Linked DNA regions of Homo sapiens: all the other regions are linked to region 4. Evidence: fine-mapped expression QTL. A gene starts in region 4. Each other region holds a variant in brackets. All regions are shown on one strand. Distances are between the middles of the regions. Region 1 has its middle 16 kb from the start of CRISPLD2. Region 2 overlaps CRISPLD2 (cysteine rich secretory protein LCCL domain containing 2). Region 3 overlaps USP10 (ubiquitin specific peptidase 10). Region 4 holds the start of USP10 (ubiquitin specific peptidase 10).

The links. PIP is the estimated chance that this variant, and not a neighbour inherited with it, causes the effect. A credible set is the group of variants that fine-mapping cannot tell apart.
Region 1: its variant is the best candidate, but not a certain one, in a credible set for the expression of USP10 in monocytes after LPS (Fairfax 2014, PIP 0.51).
Region 2: its variant is the best candidate, but not a certain one, in a credible set for the expression of USP10 in whole blood (INTERVAL, PIP 0.64).
Region 3: its variant is the best candidate, but not a certain one, in a credible set for the expression of USP10 in aorta (GTEx, PIP 0.68).

The regions. Positions count from the first base shown.
Region 1 is chr16:84,800,363-84,807,540 of GRCh38, forward strand. No RefSeq gene overlaps it. Among named protein-coding and RNA genes, the nearest start is that of CRISPLD2, 16 kb to the right of the region's middle. RefSeq lists enhancers at 3,986-4,486, 5,654-6,232, 6,233-6,809 and a silencer at 6,194-6,393. The variant G/A (reference allele first, on the strand shown) is at 4,574.
Region 2 is chr16:84,878,931-84,882,930 of GRCh38, forward strand. CRISPLD2 (cysteine rich secretory protein LCCL domain containing 2) reads left to right here. Exons shown (of 15, transcript NM_031476.4): 13 at 1,579-1,654. Among named protein-coding and RNA genes, the nearest start is that of LINC02176, 47 kb to the right of the region's middle. RefSeq lists an enhancer at 671-1,870. The variant A/G (reference allele first, on the strand shown) is at 1,869.
Region 3 is chr16:84,741,624-84,749,373 of GRCh38, forward strand. USP10 (ubiquitin specific peptidase 10) reads left to right here. Exons shown (of 14, transcript NM_005153.3): 4 at 3,010-4,050. Among named protein-coding and RNA genes, the nearest start is that of USP10, 45 kb to the left of the region's middle. The variant C/G (reference allele first, on the strand shown) is at 2,820.
Region 4 is chr16:84,698,191-84,702,190 of GRCh38, forward strand. It overlaps USP10 (ubiquitin specific peptidase 10), which reads left to right and starts at 1,810. Exons shown (of 14, transcript NM_005153.3): 1 at 1,810-1,921. The coding sequence starts at 1,901. RefSeq lists silencers at 1,282-1,801, 1,892-2,111, 2,122-2,231, 2,272-2,381.

The DNA.
Region 1 (7,178 bases), 100 kb after region 4:
CTACATTCAATCATTTAATCCTCCCAACAACACTGTGAGACTGACAAGATTCTTAGCTCCCCTCCATGGCTGATGAAGTGGCATCTCAGTGAACTGAAGGAAGTTGCTGGAATTCCAACCTGTGCTGTCCAATTACCAGGCCTATGATCTTGGCCCCTAAGCTATCTTTGGGAGGGCCTGCCAGTGCTTGGATTTCCTGTTTCTGTCTCTTTCCCTGCTGGCTGAAGTTAACAATCAGTATTTCACAGGGCCCTCTGAAATTTCCTTCCCCTTCAAATATCAGCCTTATGCTGGTACTGGGGATACCCAGGGAGTGAGACGTGGTCTCCAGCTTATAGATGCTCGAAGTAAAAGAGGAGATGGAACAATTGTCACAGTTACCTATTGCCACGGTGATGCTGAGTAACAAACCACCTGTAACTCTGTGGCTTTATTCTTGCTCTCTGTCTGCAAATCATCTGGGAAAATGGGGTGGGGTGGGGTCACCTGATCTATGCTGGGCTCAAGCTACAGGATGGATCCAATTCTACTGGACACTTTGTTCTGTGACCCGTGGATTGCCTGGGGCATTTTCTCCTTGTGGCCATGGCGGAAGCCCATCAATCAAAGCAAGTCACATGGCTAAGCTCAAAGTCAAGAGGTGGAAAGTACTCTTTGCCCACCACGAGGCCATGGTAGACCCCAAGGCCATTGGGCTGTAGAACAGACAGCAGAGTGGAGAACCAGAACCGATAATTCAATTCACCTCATTTATTTTAACAGGTGAGCAAAGCAATTTGCATGACAGCAAGATGTTGCTAAGGAAGACAAAAGATAGAAGCAACTGCCTACCTTGCCAACCACATGCCTTCACAGAGGAGGTGATGTCGGTGCTGGGTCTTGAAAGGTGGGGTTTCCCAGGTGGAGAGAGAGCATGTGCAAAGGTCCAGTGGCACAAAAGGCCCCTGTGGGCTCAGAGAGAAGGAAAAAGCTTAGTGCTACTGATGTGTAGAGGGGTGCATGTGCTTGCAGGTGGGTGGGGAGGGTATGGGGCAGGGAGCTGGGTGCAGTAGAGAGAGATGAACCCAGAAAGTTGCCAGTAATGAAGATAACTAAGGTCATTAATGGGCAGGGAAGTGTCTGGTCAGGCTTGGGTTTTCAGGTAATGATTCTGGCTGCAAAGTGGAGACCAGAGAAGAGGAACAATTAAAATAATTAACATGTGTAGGTTTTTCTTTAAAAAAAAAAAAAAAGAAAGAAACAGCCAGGCATTTTACATGCCTAATTTGAACCTCACAGCAACCGAGTGAAATAGGCATTATTGGCTGGGCGCGGTGGTTCACGCCTGTAATCCCAGCACTTTGGGAGGCCGAGGTGGGCAGATCACTAGGTCAGGAGATCGAGACCATCCTGGCTAACATGGTAAAACCCCGTCTCTACTAAAAAAATACAAAAAATTAGCCGGGCGTGGTGACGGGCGCCTGTAGTCCCAGCTACTTGGGAGGCTGAGGCAGGAGAATAGCATGAACCCGGGAGGTGGAGCTTGCAGTGAGCCGAGATCGAGCCACTGCACTCCAGCCTGGGCGACAGAGCGAGACTCCCTCTCAAAAAAAAAAGAAATAGGCATTATTAATTTTAATTTTAGCATAAAAAGAAATATATTTGCATTCATTTAAAAATCTTTCCTCATTGGCCAGGCTTGACCAGCTGGGAGCTCACTGTGCTCACCCTCAGGGAATGCTAACTTTTTTCTTTTTTTTTGAGACAGAGTCTCATTCTGTCACCCAGGCTGGAGTGCAGTGGTGCGATCTCAGCTCACTGCAACCTCTGCCTTCGGGGCTCAAGCAATTCTTCTGCCTCAGCCTCCCCAGTAGCTGGGATTACAGGCATGCGCCACCACGCCTGGCTAATTTTTGTATTTTTAGTAGAGACGGAGTTTCACCATGTTGGCCAGGCTGGTCTCGAACTCCTGACCTCAGATGATCTGCCTGCCTCGGACTCCCAAAGTGCTGGGATTATAGGTGTGAGCCACCGCACCCAGCCAGAACTTTTAGTGTTGTTGTTTGCTCCTGAAGCACGGAGGTTGATGTTCTCAGCCCCATTCCCCAGATGAGGAAAGCTGAGCCCTGGAGAGCCTGAGGAACATGCCCAGCGTCTCAAGTGAGGAAATGGTGGGCTAGGATCCAAACCCAGGAGGTGGGCAGCTGGCCACTGGGCCACAGCGCCTCCCCATAGGGTGAGTCCAGAGCCCCCAACCAAAATGGCGGATGGGCTGCAGGAGAAAGGAGGGACTGATGTGGCTTCTACCTGCGTCAAGTGGACCAGGTGTGGGACGAGTTTCAGGGGAGCAGGAAGGGAAGAGAGGAGTCAAGAATCCTCGACTGGCTGGGCGTGGTGGCTCGTGCCTGTAATTCCAGCACTTTGGGAGGCCGAGGTGGGTGGTTCACGAGGTCAGGAGTTCGAGACCAGCCTGACCAACATGGTGAAACCCCATCTCTACTAAAAATACAAAAATGAGCCGGGCGTGGTGGCACTTGCCTGTAGTCCCAGCTACTCAGGAGGCTGGGGCAGGAGAATCGCTTGAATCTGGGAGGCGGAAGTTGCAGTGAGCTGAGATCACGCCACTGCACTCCAGCCTGGGTAACAGGGCGAGACCCTATCTCAAAAAAAAAAAAAAAAAAAAGGAGTCCTCGACCATGCCGTATGCTTCCAGTTACAGAATATTCTTGAACAGGCAAGCAAGTCTACAGCAAAGCAACAGAAAGCAGATCCATGGTTGCTGGGGGAGGTGGGACGCAGATGGGCGTGATGGGAACATTCTGTATCATGGTGGTAGTTGGGCGGGTATAGACATCTGTTCCTCATCCAGCTGTCCACTTAAATGGGTACACGTGCTTGTGTATAAACCCCACCCCCTGTAAGGTTGATGTTAAAAGTGCTTCTGAGGCCTCCTATTGGTGACATTGCCCAGGTCGGTGGACGTCAGGGGATCCTATTTCTTAGAACACAGGGATGTCTTTCCGTCATTTGAATTTCTGGCTAGCCGACCTTTTTCCTCCTCAGCTGGAGCCCCTACCTGCCTCGGGGGACTAGGAAAGCTTAGCAGAACCTCAGCAGGAAAGCAACTTGTTTAGCTTTTAGAGTTCTCAGTGAGACCAGAGCCCTGGGAAGGAATGAAGAGGGGAACGGGGTTGCCCACATCCTTTGCACCCCTTTTGCATCAAGAGTCAGGCCCGTGGTCCTTGGCAAACTCACGCAGGAACCGAAAACCAAATACCGCACGTTCTCACTGATAAGTGGGAGTTAAACGATGAGAAGACATGGACGCATAGAAGGGAACACCACCCACTGGGGCCTGTCGGAGGGTGGAGGGTGGGAGCGGGGAGGGGATCAGGAAGAAGAACTCATGGATACTGGGCTTAATACCTGAGTGACGAAATAGTCTGTACAACAAACCCTCGTGACACACGTTTACCTAAGTAACAAACCTGCACATCCTGCACATGTACCCTGGAAATTAAAAGTTTTTTTTAAAAAAACGATTGTTTTACAAAGTCAGTGAAAAAAGGGCCAGGCGCGGTGGCTCACGCCTGTAATCCCAGCACTTTGGGAGGCCGAAGCAGGCGGATCATGAGGTCAGTAGATCGAGACCATCCTGGCTAACACGGTGAAACCCTGTCTCTACTAAAAATACAAAAAAATTAGCCGGGCATGGTGGCGGGCGCCTGTAGTCCCAGCTACTCCGGAGGCTGAGGCAGGAGAATGGCGTGGACCCAGGAGGCGGAGCTTGCAGTGAGCCAAGATTGCACCACTGCACTCCAGCCTGGGTGACAGAGCGAGACTCCGTCTCAAAACAAAAACAAAAAGAAAAACAAAAACAAAAAAACAACAAAGTCAGTGAGAAATTTAAAAGAAAAAAAAAGGTCAGGCCTATTGAACTTCAAACTTATTATCAGCCAGAGGGGATGGAAAACCCAGTGCCTCATGGAAGGAACACCCCAAACATAAGAAGGTGGAAAATCCTCCCTCCCAGCTCCAGCAAGGTGAGCGGACAGGTGAAAAAGAGCTTCTGCCCCTGGTCGGGACCCTGGAGTCAAGGGAGGAGGCAGATTAAGGAGGAGGCTGAGAGCGAACGTGTTACGAGGCAGCTCCCTCCAGTGCAAGGTGGAGGACAGCCCTCGTGCACAGTGGAGCAGCCCCAGCCTGGGTGACTCCCCAAGCCCTGTAGGCCGATGTGGCCCGGTATGTCCAAGCTTGCTGGAGTGGGTTAACTGGTGGCCCCCAGAATGATATATCCAAGCCCTGATGCCCAGAACCCGTGAATGTGACCTTATTTGGAAAAAGAATCTGGCTGGGCACGGTGGTTCATGCCTGTAATCCCAGCACTTTGAGAGGCCGACACAGGTGAATCATCTGAGGTCAGGAGTTCGAGATCAGCCTGGCCAACATGGTGAAACCCCACCTCTACTAAAAATACAAAAGTTAGCCGGACTTGGTGGTGCACATTTGTAATCCCAGCTACTCGGGAGGCTGAGGCACGAGAATCGCTTGAACCCAGGAGGCGGAGGTTGCAGTGACCCGAGATCACACCACC[G/A]CACTCCAACCTGGGTGATGGAGCGAGACCACATCTAAAATAAATAAATAAATAAATAAATAGGCTGGCTGCGATGGCTCACGCCTGTAATCCCAGCCCTTTGGGAGGCCGAAGTGAGTGGACCACAAGGTCAAGAGATTGAGATCATCCTGGCCAACATGGTGAAACCCCGCCTCTACTAAAAATACAAAAATTAGCTGGGCGTGGTGGCGCACGCCCGTAGTCCCAGCTATTCGGGAGGCTGAGGCAGGAGAATCACTTGAACCTGGGAGGCGGAGGTTGCAGTGAGCCGAGATCAGGCCACCGCACTCCAGCCTGGGCAACAGAGTGAGACTCTGTCTCAAAAAAAAAAAAAAAAAAAGAAAGAAAAAGTATCTTTGCTGTAATCAATAGAAGGTCTTGAGATGAGGCCATCCTGGATGACCATGTGTGCCCTAAGTGCAACCATGAATGTCCGTATAAGAAGAGAAGAAGGCTACGCGAGGACAGAGGCAGCGATGGGAGTGATGCGGCCACAAGCCAAGGAACACCTGGGGCCCCTGGAAGCTGGAAGAGGCAGGAAGGATCTTCCCTCTCTCCACTCTGCAGACGCTTTGATTTCAGACCGCTGGCCTCCGGAACCGGGAGAGAACACATCTCTATTGCTAGCCACCCAGTTTGCAGCAGTTTATTAGGACATCCCCGGGAAATTAATCACGGCTCCTGTCATGTAAAAAGATCGGTGGGTGGGCTCCGTCTTTGCCTCTCTGCAAAACCGTGAAGTCCCTAAACTTCCTTCCCACTCATCTAGGGGGAGAGGAGAGGAAGGAGGGAAAGAGCGAGGGCCCTGAGTGGCTCTGAGTGCACATGGGTGGGCTAGTTGCTGCAGAGACCACTGCAAATTAACAGAGATGATATAGAGAGACTGAGGCTGAGCATGGTGGCTCACACCTGTAAGCAGCACTTTGGGAGGCAGAGGCAGGCGGATCACTTGAGGTCAGGAGTTTGAAACCAGCCTGGCCAACACGGTGAAACCCCATCTCTACTAAAAATACAAAAATTAGCCAGGCATGGTGGTACAAGCCTGTAATCCCAGTACTTCGGGAGTCTGAGGCAGGCAGATCGCTTGACATCAGGGGTTTGAAACCAGTCTGGCCAACATGATAAAACCCCGTCTCTACTAAAAATACAAAAATTAGCCGGGCATGGTGGCACATGCCTGTAATCCCAAATACTGGGGAGGCTGAGGCAGGAGAATCACTTGAGCCCCGAAGGCGGAGGTTGCAGTGAGCTGAGATTGCACCACTGCACTCCAGTCTGGGTGACAGAGTGAGGCTCCGACTCAGAAAAAAAAAAAAAGAAACCAAGAGATGTCCTGTTGTCAAGGTTAAGTACTACCCCACCCCTCAACTGCCCTGTTAGGGAAAATAAGGCAGTTGCATTTTCAGACACGCAAGTGGGACCCGCCGAGATTAAAAATGCAAGAAGCAGCGGTTCACAGGATGCCGAGGATGACTGGACTTCCTGTCCACCCCCTGGGCCTGGCCAGAGCTTCTGCAGGCACTTCAGGCTCCCCTGATGGTGGCGGTGATGCCGTGGGTGCTCGGGGACAGTGGGAATGCAGTGACACCACTCGGGCTAGAGAACCCCCCGGAGGCTCTTGCATTGGTCGTCCTGGGCCATGCACAGCCTGGAACTGGCCGCTATCCAATTTTGCATCTGGGAAGTGTTCATCGATTGCTAGAAAAATAATCAGGTCGAACGCAGGCCATTTCCGGTAAAGAGGCTCTAGGGAAGCACCTTCAGGCCAGATGACTCAGGACTGTGCGGAGTGTGTGTGGTCTGGGAGCCGGCTGCCTGCCGGGCCCGGGTGCTCTGCAGGGAAACAGTTGGCTGCCTGAGGGCTCATTCATGGCTGTTTCCCCTGGAAGGGCGGCGCAGGAGCCCGGTTCTGCAGCCCTGCCGACGCCGTGTCACAGACACAGCTCTTCATGGATGCATCTGGTTTCCCATGGCTGCGGTAACAAGTGACCACAAGGTTGGCGGCTGGAAACAGCTTAAGTATCCCATCTTACGGTTCTGGAGGTCAGAAGTCTGAGATCGGCATCACTGGGCTAAAGTCAAGGTGTGGGCGGGGCTGGTTGCTCCTGGAACCTCCAGGGGAGAATCGTCTCCTTGACTTTTCCAGCTTCTAGAGGCTGCCTGTACTCCTGGGCTCATGGCCCCTTCGTCCATCCTCAGAGTGCATCACTCCAACCTCGGCTTCCATCATCACAGCACCTTCTCTTCTGACGCTGACCCTCTGGCCTCCCTCTTACAAGGGAGGCTTGTGATTCCGTGGGGGCCACAGGAGAATTCAGGCCGCTCTTCCCATGTCACCACCCTTAGCAGAATCACGTCTGCAGAGGCCCCGTTACAATGAATGCTGGGTCCAATCGCGTTTCCCAAAAATCCATGTCCACCTGGGACCTCAGAATGGGACCTTATATGGAACTAGGGTCTCTGCAGATGTAATCACATTAAGATGATGTCACACTCAACTAGGATGGGCCCTAATCTAGTGCCTGATGTCTTCATAAGAAGAGGAAAGTTTGGACACAGATGCACCGGGAAGGTGGCCATGTGA
Region 2 (4,000 bases), 180 kb after region 4:
AGGATGAAGACAGCTGCCCTGGAGGCTGGGTGGTGTGGCCCTCATGAGCCCTCATCCTGGGCTGGAGACCTGTGGATTCTCCAAGGGACAATAGGTGGTGACCCCAAGGTTCCGAGCAGGGAAAGGCCCAGGAGGGTGACTGGTTGGGAGGGGCCCAGACTGCTTTCCCTTGACTGCCACCCCACTTCAGGCTTTCTCTGGGCCTCCACTGCCTCCGCACCACCGTCTTGATCCCCCTTGAATGTTCGAGTGGGGATAACAGCCTTTTAGTAGATTTTCCCTGAATATTAGAGAGAAGCAGAAGGAAAGAATTTCAGAAAATACAAACAGAAAAACTTGACACAGTGCAATATGCAAAATGTTAATTTCTGATCTGCCATTCCAAAAGAAGTAGGAAAGAATGGAGACTGTTCTTAGACTCTTTCCAATTCTTTTTTTTTTTTTTTTTTGAGACTGAGCTTCGCTCTTGTTGCCCAGGTTGGAGTGCGGTGGTACAATCTCTGCTCACTGCAACCTCTGCCTCCCAGATTCAAGCCATTCTCCTGCCTCAGCGTCCCGCGTAGCTGGGATTACGGGCCTGCACCACCACGCCTGGCTAATTTTGTATTTTTAGTAGAGATGGGGTTTCACCATGTTGGCCAGGCTGGTCTCGAACTCCCGACCTCAGGTGATCCACCCACCTCGGCCTCCCAAAGTGCTGGGATCACAGGTGTGAGCCACTGCACCTGGCCTTCTTTTTTTTTTTTAAATCCACACACACACCCTTTCTCTCTACCCACTCATTTCCCTTCCTCCCAGCCCCTAAGAACTGTTTCAACTTCTCAGTCCCTTTGCCTGGCCTTCTTCCTTCCCATAATCCTGCCTGCCTGGGGCCAGATGGCTTCCGGCTGCCATTTTGGTTTCTTGGTCCCTGGGCTCCAGCCCACGGTGGACTGTTCCAGATAAACACAGAAGATCTTTTCTTAAGTAAAGCCCGTGCTCTTTCCTGGCTTGAGTTTGTCAAACCACCCAGGGGTCACCCATTTCCAGTTTGAGGTGCTTTCCTCATGCCCTGGAGGATCTGTGGTGACTGACACACAGTGATCTAACCCCTTCCACCCCAGGTTATCAGTGCCCCCGCCTTGGAATATTCTGTGACTCAGCGAGGTGAGGGCCCTCCACCCTTTCCTCCTCCACACAGGGAAGCGGCCTTAGAAAAAGTCTCTTGATGCTAATCTCCATAATGTACCCACAGTGTGAACTAGCCAACATCCAAGAATGGGAGGGGCAGCCTCACAATTCCACACTCTTCTCTCTTAGATTTTTATTCTCTTTACCTTTTTGTTTGTGCATGTCTTTTGTGGATGTGTGTGTGTTTTTAAAAATTCTATCTACACTGTTTAAGAGAAGCAAAAATAGTAATATCTTTACCTCTGCTGAGGGGGGAGAAGTATTGTTTTTTTTCTTAATGAGGAAAACTGTATGGCGGTTTCCTTTCATCTACGAACTTAAATCTTGGAATTCAAATAAAGAGAGCCAGCTTAAGAAGTTTGGTTTTCTGTGCTCAGACCCATCACATAAATGCTTCCTGTTTTTCAGAATCCATTGTCCGGCACACTGCAAAGACGAACCTTCCTACTGGGCTCCGGTGTTTGGAACCAACATCTATGCAGATGTGAGTAGGATGCATTTTCAACAACTATCTCGCAAAGCCTGTTAAAGACCTCAACATGCAAGCTCCAAGATCTGGATACTTGAAACTTTATTCCAGTGCCTCTTAGCTAAATTAATTAATTAATTAATTAATTAATTTCGAGATGGAGTCTTACTCTGTTGCCCAGGCTGGAGTACAGTGGAGTAATCTTGGCCCACTGTAACCTCTGCCTCCC[A/G]GGTTCAAACGATTCTTGTACCTCAACCTGCCAAGTAGCTGGGGTTACACAGTGCACCACCATGCCTGGCTAATTTTTGTATTTTCAGTAGAGACAGGGTTTCACCATGTTGGCCAGGCTGGTTTCGAACTCCCAACCTCAGATGATCCGCCCACCTCTGCCTCCCAAAGTGCTGGGATTCCAGGTGTGAGTCCCCACACCCGGCCAACCTCTTAGCTAAGTTTAGACCACTCATTTCTGCAAACATTTTCCCCATTTCCCCATTTCTAGAGATAGTAGTGCTTCTACCTACCTGTCCTCACAAATGCAGATTCAGGAGTGCCTGGCCTTACTTAAATGTTTTCGCAGTTTGAAGGCTCTCATGCTTCAGATAGTTCATTTTTCCGGCTATTTAGTCATCTTCCCAGCTCTCCGGATGCATTTATAGAAACTGGTCCACGCACTGTATTTCTTCTCAGTTATGCACACACTTAGCTAAAAGCACAAAGAAGATAATACAGACCACCCTAATTTACTGCTTGTTGATAGCCACTCTGGTTATACCAATCTCTTCCTCTGTTTTTTCCCTCCGAATTTTAACCAGGGAGCTTTAGCCCGGTTTTTCTTAGGTGGATCCTGCAGAACATTGTCTGTTCCCTCTGGTTGTCCAGGGTTTGGGGACATGGTGACCCAGACAATGTGACTGTGGTCCCACTTCTGCTGCCAGCAGGCTGTGTGATCTTGTCAAGCTGTTTCCTTGTGGCGGAACGGCCCAGAACCGGGATTATCAAATCCAGGGAATCTTCTAGATCTAAAATTCTGTGATTAGGGCAGCATCATTCATCTCTAGCTAATGTTTTTTATTTTTTTATTTTCTGAATAGAGGCAAGGTCTCACTATGTTGCCCAGGCTGATCTCGAACTCCTGGGCTCGAGCGATCCTCCCTCCTTGGCCTCCCAAAGTGCTGGGATTATAGGGGTGAGCCACTGCACCCGGCCTCCAGATAGAGCTTTACTCAGCTGCTTGTCATCATCCCCTCCTTTACAGCTCTCTCCCGCTTCCCCGCCATCATCTTTGCCTCTGTCTGCCTTAATGTGTTCCAGATTCCTGTAAATATGAGGTCACTGGGCTCTGTAAGGTCAGAGCAGGCTTCATGACTAAGCTTATCTCCCCCCATCTTTTTTCTTTCCTCTTTAAATGGGTCTTTTTTTCTTCTTGAAAGTGATTCAGCTAAAATTGAGTTATAAGAGTTAGAATTTTTATGAAGGAGTAAAATAATATTGTCGATTATTACACCAAATGTTTGAACCAAATTCTACCATTAAGAGACAGAGGCTGAGGTTTTCAAATGATTTAAAAATAAAGAGCTGGGCAAAGCAATCCCAGCCAAATACAAACAAACACATGAAAAGCAAGAGTGGCAATATTCCTCTCTGAAAAAGTGGAATTTAAAGTTAAATGTACTGAATGAGACAAAGTAATGTTACACAATGGCACAGAAGATACAATTTACAGGAAAAGGAATAAAAACTGTACACACCAAACAATATAGCAGCTAAACCAATAAAGCAAAAAAAAAAAAAAAAAAAAAAAAGCAAGAACTTAATGGATATTTGCAACAATAGAAGGCTACTTTTTTTTCTTTTTTTGAGACAAGAGTTTCACTCCTGTTGCCCAGGCTGGAGTGCAATTGCACGATCTCGGCTCACTGCAACCTCCCAGGTTCAAGAGATTCTCCTGCCTCAGCCTCCCGAGTGGCTGGGATTACAGGCACCCGTCACCACACCCAGCTAATTTTTGTATTTTTAGTAGAGACGGGGTTTCACCATGTTGGCCAGGCTGGTCTCGAACCCCTGACCTCAGGTGATCCACCCACCTTGGCTTCCCAAAGTGTTGGGATTACCAACATGAGCCTCTGCACCCAGCCAGAAGGCTACCTTTTATTCAACACATACTATGTTTTAGGTCCTTTCTTTAAAAACACCGTCTCTAGGTATCGTTATCCTTATTCCTGTAGGAAGAAAACAAGGCTCATAGTAACCTGTCCAAATCCACACAGTGAGCACGTGGCAAAGGTGACAAACAGGTGAACATGTGTCCGGCTTTCGACTCTGCTCTTTCCCTGGTGTATGCTGCCTTGCTTGATGTTACCT
Region 3 (7,750 bases), 45 kb after region 4:
TCTTGGCCCTTTTTCTCCATTCTTTACTCTGTTCCCTCTAAGTCCTGCCTTTTTTCTGCCAAAAACACGACTGGAATCTTGCCACCAGTTTGCACAGTTAGTGACAGGCCTGCTTTTCTCTGCAGCCTTTCTGGGTATCTTGTGTTTCCATGACATTAGTTTCTCTTCCAGTGCCTGTTCGACTGTACAGAGCCTGTGGGCACTGTCATGGACCTGCCTCTCTTTCCAGCCTGCTCAGCTGCTGATGGCAGGATCCATTTCTCTGTGTCTGTCACTGCGCCTGTAGTATCTGGAATGTTGTAAGCCCTCAGTACATTTGTTGGATGAATGGTTTAGGATGCTTTATTCTGCTCCCTCCCACTACCTCCAGCTGCAGCAAGCCCTTTGCAGAGGCACCTCATCGTGGCTTCCCTTTTAGATCTCGGCCTTTTCTATTTTTGTGTTTTTTAATTTTTTTATATTTTAATTTTTGTAGGTACATAATAGGTGTATATATGTATGGGGTACATGAGATATTTTCATACAGGCATACAACAAGTAATAATCACATCAAGGTGAATGGTTGTCCTTCACCTCAAGCACTGCCTGTTTTAGATGTTCCTAAAGCTTGAGATACCACTCCTTCACCCTGCCCTTAGCAATTCAGTGATCCATCAAGTTCCACTGACCTCTCTAGTTTCTGATAGAAGTTGATCACTGTTTCCTGCATCCAGAAGAATCCTTTTTCTAAAGCTATTCACAGCTTTCTCTCCCCTCCCTCCATGTTTTCATTCTCAGTTGTTTGTATTTGTCTCCCTAATAAATGTGAACTCTCTGAGCAGGGCCCTTGTGTCACTAATCTCTGTATATTTCCCTCCCTCGCCCCCTGCCTTGTAGTCCAGTCCTCTCTACTGCATGTACTGCAGTGAGCAGCCTTGGAGAAATGCTGTGTTAGGATTCGTGGTTTTAAGAGCCTCTGCCTGCATTACCTGAGTATTGAGTTTCCATCTTCCTAATGTATTGATTGGGTTGTTGAAGCCAAGCGTGCAGGCCGTCCTGCACTTCGTCTGCCTGGCACATTGGGCTCTGAGCTCTCTGCCATGCGGTGCAAGGCACATGGCGTCCATTGTGAGTGTTCCTCCATAAGAAGAGGAACTGTGCTGGCTAGGAATCTGCCTTCTAGTGAGATGATCAAACATGGTATTGAGTAAATGTTTGATACTAATTATAACATACTGAAATGGTTCTGTTCACGTTACATCACATTCTAGAATGTTTTATGTTCTGATAAGATTGAGAATTGAGATGTGTACAGCACATCTGTGTCTTAGAAATAATCAGTCTTGCATAAGCTGAATGACACAACACGTTCTAGTTTCTAATGTGATTTCACAGCCTTCAAAGGGCAGGCTCCACATGGAGCCTTCCGCCCCAGGCACACCCGTTTCAATCTGGGGAGCCTTGACGGCCCCAGAACATCAGGGAATAGGGGATGTATGGAACCAAAATGAACAGCCAGCCCCTACATATGATAATAAATTCATTTCCCCTTGATATTCTTTTCAAAGTAAGGAAACAAAAAATAAATAGTAGCCAAAGGAATTAGATGGTCGTGACTTCATGCATAAACTTGCTGTTAGGTGTAATCGTCATCAGTGTTCTTTTCCAGGAACTTTCTCTTGTTGGGGCAGGATTGTGCTGCCACCACCCTTCACCCCCCACAGTCGGGGGCTGTGATTCTAAAGCATACGAAGATTCAGGAGGCCTCGGGAGGCTGTGTAGCTCCAGCCTCCTGCACACTCACTTGCACGTAACTGGCCCCTCTCAGCGTCTGTATTTTTTCTTCTACAAAAAGATTTCTAGGGGTCCTTTCAAGGTAAAATATATTCAGTTCTCCGCAGTAGAACACCGTTCTTTGGGTATTAGTTTCTTTTCTTAAGATAGATGCCTTGAAAAAAAAATTGGCCCCTTAATGCTAGCCTGGAAGAAATCTTCATGCATTAAAGATGAAATATAAGGCATGTGTCCTTCCCTTAACTTCAAAATGTGTAACTTTTTATCAAATATAAGGTGACATTGATGCTTGATTTCTGTTGAAAGACACAATTGATTCTAAAACTTAACCTGATTTCAGAGGTGTAAACTATAAAAATACGTCTGTCTTAGCAGGAATGAATTATGTGGATTGTGGTTAACTGGGAAGGAAGTATTGAAGGCTTCCCAAGAGATATTTAAAAGTTCACAATTCTAACTTTTTCTTTTGGTATTTTTGGAAGGCTTTACCACCCATGGGGTTAATCCAGTGTGAATTTATTTAGAGGACGTTTGCATGTGTTCATGTCAGGGCCATTTTTCAGACTTAATTGAAGGTTACCAGCGGAGGAGACCAAGAGATAGAGAATTCAGAAGAGTGCTCTGAAGTGCGCTTTTATATATAGGATTCTTTGTTGTTGTTGTTGTTGTTGTTGAATCTTTTTTTGACATCTTTTTTTTTTGTTTTTAAATTTATACTTTCTAATTTCTCCTATCCAGTATGTATAGGATTCTTTGCGTAGTTCATGTTTTTGGAATTAATCAAATCACGTTAACTACAGAAGCTGATTTAACCATGTTTTAAGTCCCTAAGTTAGTTGTCATGATCTTTTAAAATTTAAGTTGTCCAAAATACATATTCCTTTATCTCAGGCATAAGGCAGCTATAAGAAAGTCAGATTCCACTGGGGGGTATTTTTAAAATTGGCAAAATATTACTTGCTTTTTATTACAAATTTATTTTAATTTCTACCTTCTGAAAGCCTTCCTTAGCTAGAAAGATAAGTACAGGCTTCTGCTTTTCATAT[C/G]CCCAAATTAAATAATAATTTTATAGTTGTTTCATTTTCCGCAAATTGTTCAGCGTAAGTAAAGGACGTAATAGATTTGTTGATTAGGAAGAGAACTTAAGGTTTTTATTTTCAAAGAGAAAGTGAGTAATTACTGGTACTTAGAGTTTGTAGAACTGGGTTCTTAACTAATAGTTTTCTTTCTAAACAGGACAAGAATATCAGAGAATTGAGTTTGGTGTCGATGAAGTCATTGAACCCAGTGACACTTTGCCGAGAACCCCCAGCTACAGTATTTCAAGCACACTGAACCCTCAGGCCCCTGAATTTATTCTCGGTTGTACAGCTTCCAAAATAACCCCTGATGGTATCACTAAAGAAGCAAGCTATGGCTCCATCGACTGCCAGTACCCAGGCTCTGCCCTCGCTTTGGATGGAAGTTCTAATGTGGAGGCGGAAGTTTTGGAAAATGATGGTGTCTCAGGTGGTCTTGGACAAAGGGAGCGTAAAAAGAAGAAAAAGCGGCCACCTGGATATTACAGCTATTTGAAAGATGGTGGCGATGATAGTATCTCCACAGAAGCCCTGGTCAATGGCCATGCCAATTCAGCAGTCCCGAACAGTGTCAGTGCAGAGGATGCAGAATTTATGGGTGACATGCCCCCGTCAGTTACGCCCAGGACTTGTAACAGCCCCCAGAACTCCACAGACTCTGTCAGTGACATTGTGCCTGACAGTCCTTTCCCCGGAGCACTCGGCAGTGACACCAGGACTGCAGGGCAGCCAGAGGGGGGCCCCGGGGCTGATTTTGGTCAGTCCTGCTTCCCTGCAGAGGCTGGCAGAGACACCCTGTCAAGGACAGCTGGGGCTCAGCCCTGCGTTGGTACCGATACTACTGAAAACCTTGGAGTTGCTAATGGACAAATACTTGAATCCTCGGGTGAGGGCACAGCTACCAACGGGGTGGAGTTGCACACCACGGAAAGCATAGACTTGGACCCAACCAAACCCGAGAGTGCATCACCTCCTGCTGACGGCACGGGCTCTGCATCAGGCACCCTTCCTGTCAGCCAGCCCAAGTCCTGGGCCAGCCTCTTTCATGATTCTAAGCCCTCTTCCTCCTCGCCGGTGGCCTATGTGGAAACTAAGTATTCCCCTCCCGCCATATCTCCCCTGGTTTCTGAAAAGCAGGTTGAAGTCAAAGAAGGGCTTGTTCCGGTTTCAGAGGATCCTGTAGCCATAAAGATTGCAGGTATAGTTGAAAAGATACAAATCTAGAGTGAAGATGGGAGCAGACCTCATCAACTGGGCTTATAGACTGTGGTGTTACCCATAACAATGGCAGATTACCTGTGTGTTAATAGCAACGTCTGAAGGATGCCTATGTCTTAAATGTTCTCTAAAAGTAAGATAATATAGAAACAAATGGGAGGAGAGGGTTGTCGTAACTTTATGTTAAGTGAAAGATCCATGTCTGTTAGCAGTTCTTTTCTGTTGACAAGTTACATTTCCATTTCTTGCCTTTTGTTCAAGTAATTCTGCTCCACGGTATGAATGTATAATGGACTTTTTCTGTGATATACCTTTGGTATGATAATCCTGATTTGTACTCACTGTGTGCTCCTTTTTTATATTTCTTAAGATACAAGAAATCATTTTGTGAAATAACATGGTTTTTTTTTTTTGGATTGAGTAAATGGATTTTATTCAGAATTTTGATACACCAAGGTCAGCTCTTGAAGAGAAAAAAAATGTTAAGGGTTCAGCCCAAAGTTAATGTTTTATTTTAGAGTGCTAAGGCTCCAAAGTAGAAACAATTCACAATAAAAATAGAAAGCTGCATAATTCACAGATTGTTTTTAAAAAGTTACAGTAGGAAGTCAGAAATGCAGCAGGGTATGAAAGAGGTATGTGTCCTCACATAGCCACGTGTTGCTTAACTAAGATGGATATGTGTTCCGAGATGTGCGTGTTAACATCAGAGAGTACTACACAAATACAGGTGGTAGAGCCTTAGGCTGGTGGTGCAGCCTATTACTCCCGGGCTGCAAACCTGTCCAGCGTGTTACTACTGAATACTGTAGGCAGTTGTAACACAGTGCTAAGTATTTGTGTGCCTGAACACATTTAGACATAGAAAAAATATAGTACAGATATGGTATAAAGGATGAAAAGTGCTTCACCTGTATAGAGCACTCACCGTGAATGGAGCTTGCAAGACTGGAGTGGCTCTGGATGGGTCAGTGATGAGTGCTGAGTGAATGTGAAGGCCCAGGACAGTACTGAGCAAAGCCGAGTTTTATAAACAGTCAACACTTAGGCTGTACTACGTTGATTTACAAATTTTTCCTCAATAAGAAATTAACCTTAACCTACTGTAACTTTTTTACGTTTTATTTTACTTTTAAATTAAAAATTCTAAACTTTTTGACTCTTTCATGAGAACATTTAGCTTAAAACACACACTACAGCTATACAAAAATATTTTCTTCCTTTTTATTCTTACTTTCCTATAAGCTTTTTCATATTAAAAATTGTTTTTAACTTTTTAAACTTAAAAAGTAAGACACAAACATTAGCCTGGGCCTGCACAGGGTCAGGAGCATCAAGACGCCACTAGGCGGCAGGACGTTTCAGTTCCACTAGAATCTTGTGGGACCATCATACGTGCGGCTCATTGTTGACCGAAATGTTACGCCGCGCGTGACTGTACGTACCTAAGAAGCAGAAGCTGTGTCATCAGGTTGGATTCCACCAAGCCTGGTGACCAGATCTTCAGATTGTCACCCTAGTAGCCAAGTTAAAATAAGCTGTTTGGTTTAGGCTTTCTGTAATACTTTCTGATGTGACCTTTTGGAACACCTGACACCCTTCATTACCAGGATGTAGCAGCAAGCTGCCAAATGCACACCCTTCGATGGATGGTCAGAATTGTGTAAAAAATAAAACACATTCTTTGGGTGGCAATAGGGTGATAGCAAGCAATGTATATATATTTTTAAGAGTATTTTATTCCTTATACAAAATACATTATCTCAGGTACTCTTGTTGTTCTGAAGTTCTCTTAAATGAGCAAATGATAGGCCAGACGTCGTTATTTTGGGCTTCATATATATTTTTTAAAGCCAGGTGATTTTTTTTTTTTTTTTTTTTTTTTTTGAGATGCAGTCTCACTCTGTTGCTCAGGCTGTAGTGCAGGAGGCACGATCTTGGCTCACTACAACCTCCGCCTCCTGGGTTCAAGTGATTCTCCTGCCTCGGCCTCCCAAGTAGCTGGGATTACAGGCACATGCCACAATGTCTGGCTATCTTTTTTTGTATTTTTAGTAGAAATGGGGTTTCACCATGCTGCCCAGGCTGGCCTCAAACTCCTGACCTCAAGTGATCTGCTCGCTTCAGCCTCCCAAAGTGTTGGGATTCCAGGTGTGGGCCACCGCACTCAGGCCAGGCGATTTCTTGAATACAGCTTTCAGAATGTATTTATTGCAAGGACTGATACTGTAGGTGGATGACAAGGTCAGGAGATCGAGACCATCCTGGCTAACACGGTGAAACCCCGTCTCTACTAAAAAAAACCTAAAAATCAGCCAGGCGTGGTGGCGGGCGCCTGTAGTCCCAGCTACTCAGGAGGCTGAGACAGGAGAATGGCGTGAACCTGGGAGGCGGAGCTTGCAGTGAGCCGAGATGGCGCCAGTGCACTCCAGCCTGGGCGACAGAGCCAGACTCCATCTCAAAAAAAAAAAAAAAAAAAAAAAAGATAGATTGTGTAAGCCTTTATATAGATTACTAAGTTAAAAGTTTATTTTTAACCTATAATGAGAAATGCATGGTGGGGTCCTGTTAAAAATGTGCATTCTAAGTTCGAAGTCATGAGAATTTTATTTTCTTTTCTTTATTTTTGAGAGGGGGTCTCACTCTGTCGCCCAGGCCGGAATGCAGTGGCGCAATCTCGGCTCACTGCAACCTTCTCCTCCTGGGTTCAGGCAATTCTCCTGCCTCAGCCTCCCTAGTAGCTGGGACTACAGGTGCCTGGCACCACGCCAGGCTAATTTTTGTATTTTTAGTAGAGACCGAGTTTCACCATGTTGGCCAGGCTGGTCTTGAGCTCCTGACCTCAAGTGATCCTCCTGCCTCAGCCTCTCAAAGTGCTGAGATTACAGGCGTGAGCCACCGCGCCCAGCTGAGAATATTATAGTTTCGTTTCTAAAATTGCTCCACAAAGGAAAACCTCCCATCTTAGGGAGATTTTCTCTATCTTTATTTAAAATAACCAAGAAAAGCTTCATTTAAAATGTTTTAGAACATTCTACTTAGTCATATGACTTTAAATATAGTTTGATAAATAGTTTGTTATGTTCTGTATATGTTAAAGTCTAATTGAAGTAGCTTTGTCAAACACTGAAAGTAAGGGCCTCTTAATGACTGGTAGTAGAGGAAAGCCTTGCCACACACAGTCCACGTAATTATTTTTGTGTGGACATATTGTAAACCCCTACCAAACAGATTATTTTTTTAATCCTATTTGGTTAGGTCAGTTATGAAGATGTTTTAATTTTCTGAGCAAAAGTGTAGTTTCTTTAAAAATATATAATTCTTTTCAGCCTGTTTGTTGAGGCTTCGATAGACAGAACGTAGTTGTTGACAGTTTCAGGAGTCTCGTGAGATAGTAGAGCAATAGAGTCACATTGAATAACCCTTGGGATCATATAGGGCTTAGGGAGAATGGCATTGTTTGAAATTTTTTTTGTTGTTTTATTCTCCTACTTAGGGATTTACTTTATAAAAGTGGTAAAACATACTCAGTTTGTTACAAGTCAGATCCACTACCACAAATTCCCTTTAGTGGGCACACTTTTAAGTGTAGGCCCACTTATTTTAAGCAGCGTTTAACTGAGTGAAAGTCTAGTTTCATTAAAAGATCTGTTGATGTGGGTTATAATAGAGTTTGACTT
Region 4 (4,000 bases):
TAGAGCCAACAATAGTAAACATTTTGCCATATTTGCTGTCTCTCCCTGAATGTTTATGTGTGTACATGATTTTATCTTTTGTTGAACCATTAAACAATAGTTTACAGGCATTATGGCCTTCACTCCTCAACTCTTCAGAATGCATCTCCTCACAATAAGGACATTCTCTCAGTGAGCACAGTATAATTATTACACTATAAAATTACCAATAATTCACGAAGATCACCCATATCCAATCCATATTCAAATGTCTCCAATTGTCAACAAATAGTAAAACCAGCTTAAAAGACATATCAGGATCCAAGCAAGATGACACATTGTATTTGGTTATGTTTTCTAGCTCTTCTATTTTGGAACAACCCCTCCCTACCACTTATATTTTTCTTTTCTTTTCTTTCTTTCTTTCTTTCTTTTTTTTTTTTTGAGACAGAGACTCGCTCTGTCACCCAGGCTGGAGTGCAGTGGCACGATCTCGGCTCACCGCAACCTCCGTCTCCGGGGTTCAAGTGATCCTCCCACCTCAGCCTCCTGAGTAGCTGGGACGCCTGGTGTGCCACACTACATCCCACCAATTTTTGTATTTTTAGTAGAGTTGGGGTTTCATCATATTAGCCAGGCTGGTCTCCAACTCCTGACTTCAAGTGATCCGCCCGCCTCGGCCTCCCAATGTGTGGGATTCCGGGTGTGAGCCGCTGCGCCTGGCCCACTTATATTTTTCATGGCATCCCATTTATGAAGAGACCAGGCTCCCTATTTTATGTAACGTGGGAATGGATCTTCCTGTTCATCTCCTCTGCTCAGTGTACGGTCTAGCAAGAGCAGACTCTCTGTAGGTGTTTGTTGAATAAATGAAACCAATAGTAATGGTTATTAATAACAATCCCAGTAGCCAATTTTTATTGACTATTCTCTTGGCCAGTGTGCTCACGTTAATCTAATTTGAACCTCACAGAAATCTTACGCGTTATGACATATTTGTCTTATTCACAGGTGAGGAAACCAAGGCTTAGGGAAGGAAAGTCGCTTGTCTGAAATCACAGCTAGAAAAGGGGCCAAAACCCAAGGGTGGACCCACTGGCTGGAAAACAGTGCAGTTAGGCAGGGGCCCCTGTTTCTTAATAATGAATGAACCAACGACCCCCAAGGCTGGTTTGCCCGTGCACACGCACGCACGTGTGCAACACGTAGCACTTGCTGAGTGTTTGCTACTTGCCAGGCCTCATGTCAAGCACTTTACGCGTGCTTTTATGCCCTACGTTTTGTTTTTGTCTGTTTTGCTTTTTTCCCCTAATGCCTAGCCAAAGGCGTGGCCCAGGCGCCCAGGCAGGACTTGGGGAGTGAATGAAGAGTGAACAAATGAATGAATGCGCGGCAACGGGATCTTCATAAACCAGACCCTCCTCGGGGATCTAATGCGAACACTCCCGAGGCCCGGGCCCAGGTACGCTGAGGGCGGCTCGTGGGCCCCAGGCCGACCTCAGCCCGCGACTCCCGGGCTCCGGGGGCCCAGGTGGCCCCCAGTAGGTGAGGAGCCGGGCCCGCCGGCGCCTTGGCGTTGCCACCTCTACCTGCCTGCCCTCTCCCCTTCCGGATCCACAGCCAGGCCTCGGCGGGCTCCTGGTGTGCAGCCGCCCGGCCGCTTCCGCCCGAGGGTCGCGGGGCTCAGAGTCCGGCAGGCTCCAGGCGGGGCAGGGGATGTCCGCGGCCCGGCAGGCGCACGCCCACCTGTCGGCCGCGCAGGCGCAGCAGCGGGCCGGCCTCCCCGCGCCCCGCGGCGCGCGGCCAGTGCGCAGGCGCGGCGGCCGATGCGAGTGTGTATGTGCGGGCGAGAAGATGGCGGCGGCGGGGGAAGCAGCGTGAGCAGCCGGAGGATCGCGGAGTCCCAATGAAACGGGCAGCCATGGCCCTCCACAGCCCGCAGGTAGCCGCCGGTCTGCGCCTTCGGCCGGAAGGGGCCCGAGCCCCGGGCGGGCGGACGCCGCGGCGGGCGGGCGTCCGCGCCCTGCCCGGAGCGAGCGTGTGGGAGTGGGGGAGGGCGCTGGGACACGCTGCCCGGGCCTAGGCCGGAGCCACCCGCCGCCTCCGCGCCCGCCGCGCCTTCGTCCCCTGAGCCACCCGGACCCCCTAGTCCCGGGGAGGTCGAAGGGCGGGGGCTCCGGGCCCCGCTTGGGGAGGGCGTGGAGGGCGCCGAAGGGGTTAACCTCCCTGGGGCTGGACCGCGGGGCGAGCCCGGGGTGTGGAGTGGGGCCCTCCCCGCCGCGCCGGCCGGGGGAGGCGGCCCGGGGGCTCCGGGAGTCCCCTGGAGCGCAGGGGCCCCAGAGCAGCTCAGGTTGCTGCCTCTGCCTGGAGCGAGCCTCAGAGATTTGGGGGTGCCCTGTTGCCCCTTTGCCCCAAGAGCTTCCTTTCTCAGCTTGATTGATGATGCGGGGGTTGCCGATTTTCTGTTTTTTAGATAGAAGTAGCAGAGTAGCGGCCTTGGGCTGCTGTTGCAAAGAAAACTCGAAATAAGTCGCAAGGACCGTACTTTCACTTGCGTTTGAGTGACATCCCTTGCACGAATCCATCCCAGCCAGGCTGACAACTAACGCACCCTGCCTGAACAGTAGCTAAAGCTTGGGGGCCCTTTACAATAATCCCGTGGTGGAAAGAAAGAGCTCTTTTTGGGAGATGTGCGTGTAGAGTTAAGCTCTTATTCCCCTCTCCCACCCCTTCTCTCACATCTTCTCCCCCCTCCGCCATTATAATTATTCTGGACAAAAATCGGCATGATGTATTATTTGTCAGCCTTGCTTTAGACTGCTAATTTGTTGACATCTGGTCCCTATAAATTGTTGCACACTTTTAAACCATCTCATTGTGTATTTGTATTAAATATGGGGAAATGAAACAAAGTAGCCATTCGGGAAACTGATTGCGAGTAAAATCATAACCCTTCATGAGCAATTGGGTTTTGTTGCCCTTCTGCAGATGAAGTCAATCTGACTACACCTCTTTTGAAACATGATTTTCGGAACTATTGTAATGAATGCGTGTTGTGGAATCTAAAATGCGAAAACTTTTTAAAAAATTAGATCTTACGACAAGCTTCAATTTTGTTAAATTAGCTGTAGTTTAGTTTGCATCAGAATTTCCCCCTTTAACGTTTTGTTCCCTTATTCATTTACTTTTGTAAGTAGTGTAGGTCTTTGCGCCAAAAAAGGGATCAGTAGTTGAATAATTTTTACAAATGTATAGCCCAAAGATTTTAAGAGATTTGGTGTATTTAGCTTTGTTTAGACCTTTCTGTTAAAAAAAAAGATTTGATATTTGCTTTTTTCTCAACTTAAATCCTAATTAACTAGCTTATTAGAATTGGTATGAACAAGTAAAAGGCTCATTATGAATTAATGTGTAATATTCCTTGTGATTTTGACATGAAGAAAGCATCTTTAGGCATAGCTCACTTCCTTTATTTAATAAGCATCAATCACAATTCAAGGTTGATTGAAATGTTAATTAATGGGGATGGATAATATGTAAACTTAATTGTAATTTCGTTTGCATTCATTGTCCCAGTATTTACGTTTTATACAACAGTCTAAAGCGTTATACACATCTTTAGAAAATTGGAGTAGCAAAAGTTGGCGGAACGTAAATGTTAGCAACACTTTGGGTTTATTCTTTTAAAGTATGATTTAAATGCTTTTAAGTTTTAGCATGGAGAAAGTAGCAAAGGAAATAGTTTGATTTCTCATAATTTTCTTCTTCTTTTTTTTTTTTTTTTTGAGTTGGAATTTGGCTCTTGTTGCCCAGGCTGGAGTGCTGTGGTTATTAACCTATAAACTTTTTTATTTATTTTGAGATGGAGTTTCGCTCTTTTTTTTTTTTTTTTTTTTTTTTTTTTGAGACGGGAGTCTTGCTCTGTCGCCCAGGCTGGAGTGCAGTGGCATGATCTCGGCCCACTGCAACCTCTGCCTCCCGGGTTCAAGCGATTCTCCTGCCTCAGCCTCCCAAGTAGCTG